Linked DNA regions of Homo sapiens: region 1 is linked to region 2. Evidence: fine-mapped expression QTL. Tissue or cell type: thyroid. Region 2 holds a variant in brackets; the other region holds the start of a gene. All regions are shown on one strand. Distances are between the middles of the regions.

The links. PIP is the estimated chance that this variant, and not a neighbour inherited with it, causes the effect.
Region 1: it holds the start of SAMD12, and the variant in region 2 is fine-mapped to the expression of SAMD12 in thyroid (GTEx, PIP 0.99).

The regions. Positions count from the first base shown.
Region 1 is chr8:118,618,480-118,626,582 of GRCh38, reverse strand. SAMD12 (sterile alpha motif domain containing 12) reads left to right here and starts at 4,620. Exons shown (of 4, transcript NM_207506.3): 1 at 4,620-4,779. The coding sequence starts at 4,767. SAMD12-AS1 (SAMD12 antisense RNA 1) reads right to left here and starts at 5,582. Exons shown (of 5, transcript NR_038210.1): 1 at 5,397-5,582; 2 at 4,928-5,048. RefSeq lists a silencer at 4,278-4,427 and enhancers at 4,528-4,727, 5,338-5,547, 5,578-5,627.
Region 2 is chr8:118,237,463-118,245,571 of GRCh38, reverse strand. It overlaps a transcript of SAMD12 not described here. Among named protein-coding and RNA genes, the nearest start is that of EXT1, 130 kb to the right of the region's middle. The variant T/C (reference allele first, on the strand shown) is at 4,259.

The DNA.
Region 1 (8,103 bases), 380 kb before region 2:
TTAACTACAAGTCGGACTGGGCAGACTTACTCCACACTTGGCAAATATCCTGAGGCCCTTGCTACTGCTTAACTGAATTATATCCATGTTCTTTGGGAATGGCCTCTCAGGCTTCCATGGATGATCAAAAGAGCAAACACTTATTGGGCATCCATTATGTGCCAGGACAGCGCACAACACTATAGATACTCTCTCAGTCACTGCTGAGCCCCAAACTGTGAGCTAGGTAATGTATACATTACACAATTAATAGCATTACAATACATGTGGGAAAACCAAGGCACAGAAATGTCAAAGAACTTTGCTAATAACCAACATCGAGTAAATGAGAGTCAGGATTACAATCTAGTTCTGTATGTCTACGAAACTTGAGTACTGAAGCCAAATATTCAGATAACCAGTTAATATAAAGGTAGACAGATTCTGCTCAAATTTTGAAGACATAATTTAAGTCTGATTTTGAAAGTATAGTTTAGACGAACGATGGTATAGAATATCACCAACTTATCAACAAACAGATAACACACAATGCGATTTAATTATGCACAATGTGATTTAAGCAAAAACAACTAGGCTTTTGCTTAAATCATGTTCCCTGAAATATGCTTACTTCCTCCAATGGAAGCCTGATATAACTTGAATGGTTGGCACTTTATTCATGACTCAAGGATTAGAGTTAGTATTTTTTATCTTAATTACAAAAAAATTATTTTTTTCCTCTCAGTTCCTCCTGTCAAAAATTTTACTTTTTAGGGTTTGAATCCTTTTGGTTAGGTTTAGAAGATCTCCCTGAACAGAATAGAAACATAATCTATTTACTTTTTGAGATTTATGAATGTTTTCTGTAGAGGCTTGTGAATATAGCAACCGAGTTAGAACAATAAATACAGTAAAGTACTTATATGTACTATTTTAAATCTTAGAATCCAGTGAAATCTGTAGCCTCATCTCAATATTTCTTTTTTTATTTAATTCACTATAAGGTAATGGGCTTTTCCTTCCCTTTCTGTGCTCTCTGATATATTCAGAAATTTTTGAATCATTCTAAATATCACAATTTCTGATATTAAAATATTTTAAACCCTTCATTTTATTAGTAATGACAATTCCTATTTGGCCAAGTGCTTATGAATTCAGATTTGTGATCACGTAATCAGTATTGAAATCTAGATGGAGTAACATCACAGAGTTCTACACTTAGGTAGACCTCAATCCCCTTGCTACAATTCATGTTTTGGAGACATGGGGCAAATTACTTAAATTCACTGAGCTTCAATTTCCTCATCTGGAAAATAGTGATATCTGACAATATTGTAGTGATTAAAGGAGATGATGTATGTCAAGATGCTTAGACAGAGCTTGGCACTTGTAATTTCCCAACAAATGCTACTTATAACAAGGATAAAAAAATAGTAGTAATAAATTATCTATTGAGTACTTACTATGTAACCACAATTATGACCAAGAATCTGGAAGATATGAAGCATAAGACTCAGTTCCAGCACTCGAAGTGCTTATATACTATAAGGAACAAACAATAGCATCATAATGAACACAGAATTTGGCTTATGAGAGGTATGGGATGAGGTCTGGACTTTGCCCCTTGCTAAAATTGGGTATATCTGTTAGGAACTGTACTTGGCTGCTGATAAAAAAGACCAAAAATAAGTCATGATTGCAGTCTGTGAAAGATACTAAAGCAGAAGCTAAGCTGTGCCCAAATTACTGAGCCACAGAAACTGAAGTAATACATGGGTATTGTTGTAAACCACTAAATATTGGGATAATTTGTTAACAGCAATCGATTAATACATGTGGCTCATCATGTTGTTGTATACAATTGTAATTCCTTCATTTGCATTACTTTATAGGAGGGTTTGGAAAGCTTTTTTTCTGCAAAGGATCAGGTAGGAAATATTTGAGGCTTTGTAGGACAAGAGGCAAAATTGAGGATATTATGTAAGTATGTCTTTATAATTTCCAGGCTTTGCAAATTATACTTTTTTTGTTTTTTTTCCAACCATTTAAAAATGTAAAAATCACACCTAGCTGGTGAGTTATAAGAAATAAATGGTGAGCCATATTTGGCTCATTGGTCTTAGTTTGTTGACCCCTGCTATATGGAATTATTTGGTTATACCACAGTTCATCTCTCCAATCTGTGTTGATAAATATTTGAGTTGTTTTCCATTTGGGAACATTAAAATAATGCAGCCACAAACATTCTTGCACATGTCTTTTGGAGAACATCTGTATGCATATTTGTTTGGTGTAAACCTAGGAGTAGAACTTCTGGGTCACAGGATAAGCATATATTCAGCTGAATATTTCAGATGGTTTTCCAAAGTGGTTTTGTGAATTTGCACACCACCAGCAATATATAAATCTTTATTGCTTCACAATCTTGCCAACGGTTGGTATTTTGTGTCTTTATCTTTCAAACATTCTAGAGATAAATGTAATTTTTTTTTAGTACTTCCCAGGTGATTCTAATGTTCAGCCAGAATTGAAAACCTCTGCGCAACTATTGTTTATCCCTTATTAGGCAGAACCACATGAAATTGTTCTATTTGTAGGTTTTAAAAATGGTCAAACATTGGCTATTTCATATGGTAGAAACTAACATCTCCTTCACATTTTATTTATACTAAAAATAAAACTCGTCTAGAATGCACATCACTGGGAAAAATATTAAAGATGAGCTAAGATGAAGTTTTAAAATTAACCACAGATTTCAATGACTTTTATATTTTTATATCACCCAGATATTTAAAAGCTTGGAACCAGACCAATGGTTTTCACCCTCAATGAAGACTGGAATCACCTGTGGGTTTTTAAAACCTGAGTGCCTCTACCCAAACCCCCATAAGCTCTGATTCTGTGAGACTAAGATAAAAGCTTAGGAATATATATTTGTAGAAGGCTGATGCACAGCCAAGGTTGAGAACCATTGATACTACCTGTCCTATGGCTTTCTTTCACATTCATTCAATCTCAGAAAATACTTAACACTTTGGTGATTTTATATACATAAAGTAGTGAAGCACCTGGATTTCAGTTCTTTCCAGAGTTTAGAATGCTTGGCTGTGTATTAGGTCGGAAAATTCTTTTTCCCATGGAAATTATGTCTCACTGAATGGGTCTCTCTCTACTGTACCTAAAAGAGAGGCTTAGGTTTGACTTGTACACAGCTCCATGGACTCAGAATTAAAGTATCAACAAGAGCATTTAATGGTTACACGCAGGTATTTTTTAAAGTACCTATACACATATTATTATTATATATTACCCAGTAGGGGAACTAAGCATGTAATTAGTGACCAGAACAACAGGTGTGCATGTATACACTGAGAAACGAAATTGTTTTGAAAAACATTTTTTTTTTTTTGCTGATGACCAAGACACACAAAAATGTCTAAGTAGTCATCATGGGAAGAATCCGATTTTTGTACTTCCTCATTTTACAGAGATTAACATTATATATGAGTGACTGGGTGGATGTGGTACCAAATACATTTGTAAACTGAAGGCCTTTAAAAGTCAATCCAGTCTTGAGCCAGATTTATTCCCGAGGCTATTCCCTTACCCCTTCCAGCCACAACTGTATCCGTATTTTCACACGCAGGAAAAAATGTTTAGAAACTTAATTTTTACGAGCTGTCGAATTGTATTGCTATCCACGTGATTCCCATTATCATGTCTGCTTATAGCATCCCCAGCACCTACAGCTAGGACATAGGTTCAGAAGTTGAAGGAACCTGATTCTCAGGCACTGTTAATTATTAGGCCCTATCACAGGCTGTCAACAGGCTCCAAGTCTAGGCAAATTGAAAGCCTCCTATCCTGGAAGCCAGACAGGCTTTCATCTGACCTCCTCCGGTGCAATCCTGGCTCCCAGACTTTGTTCCTAACAACCCCTTGGGGACGTTGCCTATTGGGGTTTAAGCCACTCCTCCTCCCCTACACCCCCATGCCAAGTATTTAGCCACCTGAACCACCCTGTAGGATAAGACAACTGTATCAACCGTCGGAATTCCCCCACAAAACCCATACATCTCAGGGTGCGAAGGAACAAGTTTCAACCTCACCCTGGGCAGCGTTCTCTGGCCCAGGTGGAGAACCACACAGGAGGACAGTGGTCCTGCTCTCCCTACTAAATGGTGGTTCAGGAGGCCAGGGGGCGGGGCGGTACCGGCGGCAGAGGCCCACGGACGAGCTCGCAGGAGCTCATCACACAGCTGACCGTCACCTGCCCACCTCACCACACCTGCTAGGTGCCAAACCCCTTGTAATGGACAGGGAAGGGCTCAATCACGGGTCCCTACTCTTAGCAGCGAACCTATCTCAGCGCACGGCCTCCTGGGAGATGTAGTCCAGACCGCTTCCCGGGAACCCCCCCCCCCTCCCCCCCCGCCCCGCCACAACCAGGCATCCCTGGTCCCCTCACAACTTCCCCAGGAGAGATTGCTCGGCCTGGCCAGCTGAAGCTGGAGTTGCTCTCCAAGTGTCGGGGCCAGGCGGCACTCCGCGGAGGAGTCGGGGTGCTCTCCCCAGTCCGAGCGAAGGGAGGGAACTACACTTCCCAGGACGCCCTGCGCGCGCCGAGCCGGGAGCCGGCTGCCTCGCTTTGCGTGACCGCGGCAGGTTGGTCCTGGAGCAGATAAGCGCAGAATATTTAGGCGAAAGCGAGAGGAAGGGGGGAGCGCGGGGCAGGAGGAGTACCTCGGCCAAGAAAATTATGCATGCGTTAGGGAAGCTCTGAGAGAATGGCTGTGGAAGGTAAGGGACGCTTGGGGCATTTTTAAGCTCCCTCTTAACCCGCGCACCCCAAGGCACACATCCCCGATGAAGCTTGGCGATCGTGGGGAGGCGAGGAAAGGGGGTGGCGGAGAGCGGGCCCCTTCCTCCTCCACCTCTTGGCACTCACCTGCGCCGCCAAGGCCAGTAGGCGCTTTAATTCAGTTGCTTTGGAGAGACGTGAAGGGTAGGTGCGTAGGACTTTGAGGTAGGAGGTGTGGAGACGAGTGTCCCTGATGCGAAACGATATCCTGGAAATGGGGGGAAAGCCGGAGGATCCGGCATGAGGTTTTGGCCCCGAGATGCCCTTTTTCCCTGCCCCCTCCCTCCGGAGCAGGCTGGGTGGCCCCGGGGCTGGGGATGCTTGGTTGGCCCCCCTCACGTGGGAGAGGTCCCCAGCCCAGGTGCGTCATCCGGAAGCTTGGACTGGGATTGGGTCGAGGGCCCTTCGTCCTATGCACCCAGCAGCGGCGGCCGCAGATGTACCCAGAGGGTAGAGGTGTCCCTACACCTGTCTCTGCTTATACAGCCAGCGCCCCGGGCTTAGCAAAGTTTACAGACATGAAATGTAATCAGCCAGGGAAAAGAAGTGCAACAACCTCTTCGATTTGGGTGAATCCTTTTCTTTGAAGATCACTTTCTTCTTACAGTCTTGAGCTTCGGCTTTGCAGTTTTGACCGTAAAGTCCTGCCTCCCTTGAACTTCCTGGTTGAAAGCAGGGTCAGGCTGTTCGTGAGGGATCCTGAGTTTTTCATTTCAGGTTATCTTACCTTGGAACACAAACTTCCTTGTTTAGGTAGTTTCTGAAGAAGAAAAAAAAACTGTGGACCGGAAGGGTTTGTGATGTCACATTAGAGGTCAAGCTGTGCCTGAATGATGAAATGATTGTGGGACGAAATGGGAGCCTACATTCACCTGCAGAATTTTGGTTTCTGAGTGCAGTCAGGTCAGAGGGCGTACTGAAGTAGGAAGAGGAGGGCTTGCCTGCCAGCTGCTTCAGGCGCCTTGCCAAGGGGAAATCAGCCTATTCCTTGTAGGCTAGAGACGAGAAGGCCACGAGGCTGGCTTGCTGCTCCCTCTCCTCCCTGCCCCAGGAGAAAGAAATTGAACTAATCTGACTCTTGCTCCCCTTATAACGACTGTCTTAACAACCTGAAGTAGCAACAACCCAGCTCCTATACTCAGCACCCATAAACTCGGGAAACTCTTGCCTTTGGGCTATCTCAGGTTCAGAGATCCACAGCCAGCCACTTCCAGCTTTCCTAACTTTATTAACAAAAATGAAATCCTCTCTCTCTCTTACAATCAAGATTTTTCTAGGTTTTCTTTTCTGTGCAAATGTACCAGTAGGGTGAGAATCTTTTTTTTTTTTTTTTTTTTTTTTTTGCATCGTTATGCTTGATAGTCAAGACTTCAGATGCCAAAGAACAAAACAAAAGCCGAGATAAAGTTCATCTTGAGCTTGAGACCAAGGATATGTTGACCTACTCCTTAAGTGTCCGTTCTATGTCACCCATCAGGTGACACTGATTATGATCTCTCGTCTTCACCACTCCTGTGTCCCCAAGACAGGGACACTCCTCTTTGTTGCTAGTCCACACTGTTCTCGAAAACAATTTCTTGTTCCCTGTAAGAAGTATAAATTTGTCTTATTTCTTGCGTGATGGGTGATTACACCAGTGAAGCCAGACTTTACAAAAACAAGAACTTAGGAAGGAAGTACATGTGGACTATGGAGAGTTTATTTTCTAGTGACTTGGTTAAAGTACCTGTCTAGTAAACAGGAGATCCTGAGTTTGAATCACAATGAGGTCTCAAAGAATGAAGGAAGTATTTTAAACTTTAACTTCAAATATGATTCCTATCTTTGGTCTTTGCAAAGATATCAGCCTGGACCAGTCCCTTCCTGGTTACTCCTACTTGGTCTTTCAAGCCTTTGGGAAAATGTCACTTCCTCTGGGAAACTGTCCCAGCCCTCCTTTTTCTTCTGCCTTCTCAGCACTCTTTCCAGTCTATGGGAAGTGCCTCCTGCTCACATTTATCTTAATACTTATCATACTTAATCTGCCTCTTACTAGACTCTAACCCCCTTGGGGGTTAGACTTGGACTTTATATTCCTAGCTCATAGCACAGTACTTTGCCCATAATAGGTACTCAATGCTCATGAATTGCATGGCAAATATATTCATGGAGGTTTTGTAACTGGTTCTATAAGGGTACATGGGGCTTTCTTGGAAGCCTAAATGTGATACAATAAGGGATTTCTGACAGATTTGAGGATGGGAGATTTTTTTTTTTTTTTTTTTGAGACAGAGTCTTGCTCTGTCGCCCAGGCTAGAGTACAGTGGCGCGGTCTCAGCTCACTGCAAGCTCCGCCTCCCAGGTTCACGCCATTCTCCTGCCTCAGCCTCCCAAGTAGCTGGGACTATAGGCACCCGCCACCATGCCTGGCTAATTTTTTTGGTATTTTTAGTAGAGACGGAGTTTCACCATGTTAGCCAGGATGGTCTCGATCTCCTGACCTCGTGATCTGCCCACCTCGAAGTGCCCTTCTCTTCAGTCTTTTGTCTTGATGCCCAAAAAATCTTTTAGAACAGTTTACCTCTACTGCTGGGTGACATTGTCCCTGGACACATTTGGGATATGTAGGAACTGCTGCTGGGGGCTGCTGTTGGTATTTTGTGCCCATGGCCACAGATAATAAATGTCCTGCAGCGCATGGCCATCCCGTATAACGAGGCCAAGCCATGGCCAAGTAATGATCAGTTTACCCAACTTATTGAGAAATGCTGCTTCAGAGAATAAGGAGTTTTGCCAGAGGAACTGGAATAGAAAATACAGTTCGAATTGCTTAACATTCTAAGCTTTAGTCTCCACATCTGGAAAAAATGGGCTCACTACTGCTTTCCTCCTGGGAACATTGTGAGGATTTTTTTTTTTTTTTTTGAGACGGAGTCTTGCTCTGTCGCCCAGGCTGGAATGCAGTGGCGCGATCTCGGCTCACTGCAAGCTCCGCCTCCCGGGTTCACGCCATTTTCCTGCCTCAGCCTCCCGAGTAGCTGGGCTACAGGTGCCTGCTACCACGCCCGGCTGATTTTTTTGTACTTTTAGTAGAGACAGAGTTTCACCATGTTAGCCAGGATGGTCTCCATCTCCTAACCTCGTGATCCGCCCGCCTCGGCCTCCCAAAGTGCTGGGATTACAGGAGTGAGCCACCGTGCCCTGCTCATTGTGAGGATTAAATAAAGGAGAGGGCTTCTAGAAGGGTGTCTGGAACCTGCATCCTAAGTAAATATCACTTGTAC
Region 2 (8,109 bases):
TTCACTCTATGAAATGTTGCCCAAATGATTTAATCTCTCTGAGCTCAGATTCCTCCTGTATAAACGGGAATAATAATCTCCACCTCCCAGGGTTATAAGAGTTACATAAAATGAACCGTGTAACGTGGCTGGGACAGTTTATGGCCAAATTGTTACACTCCCTTCCTCCCCTTGCGGCATCCAGACTATATTACCGGTAGGCCTAATGTTTTTGGTTCCATAATTCCCATCTTCAGGTGATCTAGGCTGTTGAATAAGTTCACTGTTGCTGGAGAAGCTCTTCTGAAAACTGCTCTGACCTCAGTGTCTAATCACAGAAACTCGAGGCTTCTTAGTAAACTTTGATATCTTGTCTCCAAAAAACATAATTATCTGCCTACCTTGGCATGCCCTGGTTTTGTTTGCCTGGTGAAGCAGAAAATAAATGGCTTGCCAGCGGTGGTCATGATGAAGACCTAGATATTAAATAAGATGGGTGTGAAAGTCAGGATTGCTGTGGATTCAAAGAAGCCTTAAGTATTCTCAGAGTTCCCTTAACTCTGGGCTTCCACACATGCTGCCTCTGTGATATAAAACTCACCCTCCTCTCCTATTTCCAAAAATAAACCCTATTGAGAATGTGTGCCAGGAAGAGAAGTTGTCTGTAGACCTTCAGATTTATCCTTGGACATCCCTGTTTATAAAACCCTACACAGGGCTAGTGTCTGGTATTCCTTCAGATATTTATGCCTTCTTTTGGTTTCTCTCTATAAATTCTCCTTCTCCTTTCCTAGTTTTCGCTCTACTTTCCTTCTGGGCACAAAACAAAATTCCTCTTACTATCTCACTCAGGGCATTTTATCATCAACTTTTATGGTTTTGAGCACTAGTCCTCATTCTACCCTGTAGAGCTCATCACAAAATTTTATCCAACAAAGATGGTTCCCTCTTTCAGAGGAATTTTAATTTTAGCTACGATAATCATTATTAACAACATATGTATTTCATCTATCAATGTGATTAGATTTTATTCCTTGTGAAAAAAAATTACAGAAAGGGCCACACCATGGAAAGGACTGCAAATGTTTCAAAATCCCAGTGATTAAAAAAGCCAATGGCATTATTTGACACCTGAATGGAAGAAGACAGATATATAAGTGTTCCTTGCAAATGGATTTCTAGCAGGGGAAAAGAGATCTGGCAGTTCCTAGAGACAATGGTCTTTAGCCACCCACTAAGACTAGGTTCTGAAGCCAGGCTGGATTAAATCTTCAATCTGCTCCTTACTAACTGTGTGAATTTGGGCAAATTTTTAAACTGTCTGTGCTTTAATTTTCTAACCTGCTAATATTGATAACAAGAATACCCATCTCAAAGGGTTTTTTGGAAAGTTAAATGAATTAGCACCTTTATATATGCGCAGTATGTACTCCAACAATGGCTGCTGGTTGAAGTAAATCAGGGATCAAAAAGTCATGATGTGGTCATGATGAAGACCTGTATAAGATGGATGTGAAAGTCAGAATTGCTGTGGATTCTAAGAACCCTTAGGTATTATTCTCAGGGTTCCCTTAACTCTGAGATATAAAACTCGGCTTCATCTCTTATTTCCAGAAATAAACCTTGCTGAAACTGTGTGCCAGGGAAGAGAAGTTGTGCATCTTGTGGGAGCCAATGAAAGAAAATCATTGTCCCAATGTGCCATTTTCTCTCTCTTCATGCAGATTTCTTTCTTTTGGTAAATACAACTGCCAAAAGCTCAGCTCTTTAAAGTTTTACACCTCTCCATTTCCATGAGAAGAACAACCAGAAGACTTGTGTCATCTTTCAGGGACATAATCCTTCAAAGTTTCACACTCTGGGTATGTGTGCAGATTACTGAGACAGGAAAACATGACATATATCTCCAGGATTTTTAAGTAATTTTATATGAAGTTGTTTCCTTCATATAAATGGAATGCAGATCCACTGTAGAAAGTCTAGAATATGCAGATAATAAGCAAAAGAAGAAAATAACAGTTATATCCCGTGCCAGCACCCAGAAATAACAACTGTTAATATTTCATTGCAAATGCCTTTGATCTTTCAAGTGTATATGTGCACCTGAGTATATAGTTTTTTTTAAAAAAAATGGAGTGGTACAGTGCATGCAGGTTATCTTTTTGCATCTCAGGTGCACAGAGTTGAGTTAGCAGTGCTACTTGATTCATGGCATACCATTTTTTCGGCTCTTTCAAGGGACTCTTGTGGATTTTTCCCCTCCTTGTTTTCAAATTTCACATCTGTTCCCTACCCACTAATGCAAAAATGCCAATACATTTGATATATTTTTAATATATACTATTGAGTGTGGATATATATGCAATCCATACAAATGATATTGTGCTCTAAGACCTCATCGTTTTTCATTTTTATTCAACACTGCTTCTGAAATCTAACCATGTTACTATGTGTACATCTAGCTCAAGGTTCTATTTGATGCCTAGCATTCCATCACATTTTACTTACCTACTACCCTAGTCAAATACATGTGGGTTGCCTCATATAAATAACTGGGAAGAATTTATCTGCTTTAGACCAAAGATGGAGCTTCCTGGATCATAGAGCAGGTGAGGGCCTCCTTTCACTCCATGTTGCCAGATTGTAGCCCAGATGGGGAAACCATTGTCTACTCTCTGCAGAGTGCATGGCATTATCCAGATTTCTAATTTTGGCCAATCTGATGGATGTAAAGTTGTATCTGACTGTTTTAATGTGCATTTTCTGATAATCAGGGACTTTGAGCATAGTTTCATACTCCTTAGCCAGTTACATTTCTCATTTTGAGAGAAACCTGTTTAAATCCTTAGATTTGGAGGCAGGAGTGGGGATGTGGCAGGGGCAGGGAAGGTGGTCATGCCTTTTTTTTCTGTTTATAGCAGTCCTCACTTGTCTGTGGGAGATATGTTCCAAGACCCCCCAGTGGAGGCCTGAAACCACAGAGAATATCAAACCCTATGTTTGTTCCTCAGAATACCTACCTATAATAAAGTTAATTTATAAGTTTAGCATAGTAAAAGATTAACAACAACTAATATAATAGGACAATTATAGCAATATACTATAATAAAAGTAATGTGAATCTCTCTCTCTCTCTGAAAATATCTTATTTTACTGTACCTACTGTACCAAGGATAACTGCAACCATGGAAAACAAGGCCTCAGATAATGGGAGACTAACTACTGGTATTTGTCTGATTTTCTTGTGATTCAAGATACCTACTTTAAGGTTTTCTGGCCTATATTTTGACAATCTGTCATCTTTGTGTTAACTTTCTTTCTTCAGTTCCTTTGCCAAATGTAAATTCTTAATTTCTCTTTTATCCATACAGTTTTATTATTTACACTTATGGGGCCAAGCCTGTAATTCCAGAACTTTGGGAGGCCAAGGAGGGTGGATCACTTGAGCATAGGAGTTTGAGACTAGCCTGAACAACATGACGAAACACTGTCTCTACAAAAAAATACAGAAGTTAGCCATGGTTTGGTGGCATGTGCCTGGGGTCCCAGCTTCTAGGGAGGCTGAGGTGGGAGGATAACCTGAGCCCAGGGAGGTCAAGGCTTCGGTGAGGCATGATTGTGCCACTGTACTCCAGCTTAGGCAACAGAGTGAGACCCAGTCTCCAAATAAATAAATACACATATTGCATATATCACTCAAATATCATTGTTTTGTTTTGTGTGTTGGAGGAATATTAGTAAAACCTGGTTTATTTATTGCGGAATTTCTTATAACTGGAATGTTTATATACATTGAAGCTATTTAAATTATTTTTAGAGTACTTTGTTGATACCATACCATTTGATTTTTATGAAAACTTTGAAGAGTAGGTGAGCAGGTATCCCCATTTCATGGATGAGGAAACTGATTTGACTTAGATGTCGTGACCTGCCCAGATTCACAGAGCTCATCCGTTGCCACGCCACAACAAACAGGCAAATCCCTTGTCCCCTAGGCCAGCAGTATGCTTATCAAGAGTTGGGATTATTTCCAAAAAGGTATAATCATCTTAAACTTCTCCATGAAAAAGTCACTTACCACTTAAGAAGATAGTCACATCAAAATGTTTGTTTTGATAAGTATGGATTGACTTACTACATTGGTCTAAGAAGTAAGCTCAATGGTCTTAAAAGAGGCAGAGGTGTTAGTGTGCTAAAAGGCAACTCATCTCTCTGAACACTGTTGTGGGAAATAAGTTTTTTTAATGAGTCCTGTTCTGAAAGTGATGAGTACAGATAA[T/C]TTATGGTTTTCAAGGTAAGCCATTTTCTACACCTGCCCTCAGATTACACAGATAGAATGAACCATTGGGCCAAGAAGAACAGAAACTTGAGTATGAAGAATGGGAAGTAAGAAGAAGTTTCTAATCACTCTCGCATCAGGAAATGTCCTCCCGGAAAATGAGTATGTAGTTAACTTTGACCTCGGTGCAGACCATAAAGACAGATGGGAGAGAAATATTGGACTCTGGTCCCTAAAATCAATGAATACTATCCCAGGGATGGCACTAATGAGCTGGGGGTCAGGTGGTTGTTTGTAGGGGAAGGTAAAGCCGAGCTCTTGGCTCCTGCTGGTAAAGGAAAAGGTGATTGAATGATGGGGTGATAGAGGGCTCATTCTTCAGTGTAATCTTAATTACATTACAAAATGCTGTTCATCAGCATTTTGTGGACAAGGAGAAAAAAGCTCAGTCAACTGCTGGTTGACTCTTTAATCTTGGCTTGTCCTTCAGCACCACGGGCAATCTCAAGCAAGACCTGTGTTCTCTGACTGAGCATGCCTCCCTCGTAAAAAAATTCCTTTTGCATAATCCAATTGAGCAACGCTTGTAGTCGGCACTTTAAGAAGAATCAGTATTTTAAATATTTGCCAAATGAGCTCAAAAGATTATAATAACAATAATTATAGCTTCCATTTACTGACTACGTACTAGGTGCCAAGCATTGTGTTTAACAAGCACCATTTCAATTACTCAGGGGGAAAAACCCTAGGGTACAAATACCATTATTACCTCCATTTTGCAGATGAGGAAATTGAGGCTTAGAGATGTGGAATGAGTTGCCCGAGGTTACAAAGCTCATAACTGGCAAAACCAGAATGCAAATCCAGAACTGTCTGACTCCAAAAATGAATTTCTGTATTCTTAAATTTCGTATGAGTTATCCACTGCTGCTTAACAAAGTATTCAAAAATTTAGCCACTTAAAACAACAAACGTTATTATATCTCATGGTTTCTGAGAGTCACAAATCTAGGAGTGGCTTAACTGGGTGTTTCTGATGCAGTCTTTCTTGACGTTGCAGTCAATGTGTCAATCAGGGCTGCAGTCATCTGAAGACTCCACCAGAGCTAGAATATTTGCTTCCAACATCACTCACGTGGCTGTTGGCAAGAAGCGTTAGCTCCTCATCATGTGGGCTTCTCTACAGGGCTGCTGAGTTTCATCTATAAATAAAGATACCCTACAGGGATTTTAATGAGGATCACCTGAGATAACCTATGAGCTAGTGAGAGGTAAGCTGAAGCAGGCTGCACAAATTTTGGATAATATTATTAATGAATTTATTGCCATCTTGCCTAGGATATTCAGGAATATGGAGATATCCCTGACTCTTCCAAAAGAATGACCAAGATCATGCCTAATTACCTCCATGTCCTGGGAAAGCCCCGCTGTAATGGAGATGGCATCTTCTCCAGGGCTCTATAGGGTGGAGAAGATGAAGAAACCTGCACACAGCCCCCATGAAGATTCCAGTGTTGTGGCTGGGAATCTCTGTCTCCCTTTATGTTGGCTACATGAAAAAAGAGTGTTTGCTTACAGAGACCTGGTGGCCATTAGAAGGTGAGCACCCAAACCCTTTGGTATCCTAGCCCACATATCGAGATCCCAACCCTGGATGGGAAGAACAAATGGCCTGGGTAGAAAATAAATCCAAGGCTAGCCTAAGAGCAGAGTATGATGGAAAGTCTTTGGTGTAAGAAAAACCCATCTGTGCTCATATTTGCTGGGAGGAAACTGGTGCCCATTAAGGTTGTGTAACCTGTAGAACAAAATATTTTGTATGTAAAGCAGCTAGAAGAGTGTCTGGCACATAATAGGTACTCAGTAATAGAAGAGTCTTGGTAGTTTTGTTATTATTGTCATCATTCCAACTTCATATGGCTGTTTGAGGATTACTATATGCAATTATTTGTTTAAAATCTTATCGTTCATTAGATTGTAAATTCCATGAGAACAGGAACCTTGTATAGCTGTCCTATTTACTACTATATTCCTAGTGCCTAACAAAGAGAAGATACTCAGCAAATATTACATGTATGAATATATCTAAATGTAGAGCTTTGTATGTACTAGGTGATCCATGGTTGATAATTATCAGCATTATAATCATCACCATACCATTCCCATTACCATTATCATCATCATCATCACCACTACCATCATCCCCATCCTCATGGCATAAGAATACCCTGGTGTGATAATTCAACAGTGTTCTCAGTGTATGACAATGAGACTTAATTTCTTTTCCACTTCAGGTACTTCTGGTTCACAGAAGAATCTGGGTGTTTTCTTTTTTTCCATGGTAAAAAAAGACCTGCTCCACCATATTGGTATAATGTTGTTATGGCTTGAGGAAAAAAACTGTATTCCTAAAAAATCTTAACAAGCCCTGTAATCAGATTCAACGCAAATCTCTTGGAGTGATAGTCCACTGGTGTTGAATCCCATCTTCACTATTTTCTTTGTGGCCTTGGAAGAGTTACCAAACCTGTCTGGATCTTCATGGCCTCATTTCTAAAAGGACAAAAGTAAAAACTAACCAAAATACTGATAAGGCTATTGTAAAGAAATAACAGATGCTTTTTGTCTAATCTCTTGCATGTGTCCTTTCCATGGTAGATGTTCAAAAATATTTATAGAATGAATGTGTTGACTAGATGAATGATATAATTTATGTCTATAGCTTCACTACTCATTCCAACAGCTGAGTCAGCACAAGGAGATAGCCTTTGAAATTCTAGGGAACTCTGAAGGGTTGGAAGATGTAAGTTCCAGGACTCGCTGTGACTTTGGGCAAGTCCTGAGATATGATTCAGGGTCTCAAGGGTCTTATCCACATAATAGGAGGAAATTCCGTTTGCACAACAATGAGAATGCACTTACTGCCACTAAACTGTATGCTTAAAAATGATTACAATGATAAATTTTAATTGATTTTATCACAAAGGAAAATTCTGGCTACTAGAGTACTAGCTTTCTGGATACTAAGACTTGAGACCAAAAATATTGGCTAGCATGTATAATCCCTTACTTATGCCAAACACTGGTAAAATGTCAGATGCATGATCTCACGTAACCCTCTCAGTGGTCCTGTGAGTGAGATATTATTACTACCCCCATTTTATAGATGAGGAAACAGAAGCTTAATGAAGTATTTCTAGAGCTGGAGTTTAAAGCCATGTGTGTCTCTTTAGAGAGCTCTTGTGCTTTCCTACTTAATATTCTGAAGTTCTTTTTGTTTGTTTGTTTGTTTTGTTTTGTTTTTGACAAATAACCAAATCACAAATGTAGGCAGCTCAAATCTTGGTCACATGAGCTTTGATAGAGAAGGTGGTATGGAGACCTGATACAGTTTGAGAAAGGCCTTGTTTGCTTCCATTCTTTGAAGCTCGCAGTGCATTGGAACAGAGGGAGAAAAGGAAGGAGGAGATGGAAGAGAGGCAACAGCAGAAAACAGTGCCAAGATGCAGTTACCAATATATTTCTGAATTTTTTTAATGTTTACATTTGATTCTTATATTTGCATGATTTTAATGACAAAAAATACTTTATTGGGCAAAGACATCTGAAGTCCCAATCAAGGTCCTACAAGATTAGAAAGCCTGAGCTAATGGCTTTCCAGCCTTCTGCCTCCAGCTTCCCACCTTCCAATTCCTCTCATAGTAAGAGGCCCTGGGTGGCATTGTGATATAACCTCAGCTGGCTCTTGGCATTCCCATAGACAGGGCTTCCAGGCTTCTCTTCTTACAGCTGGGGAAAGGAACAGCAAATCCAAGACTCTCATCATATTATTGGTTTGACAACACATAGCT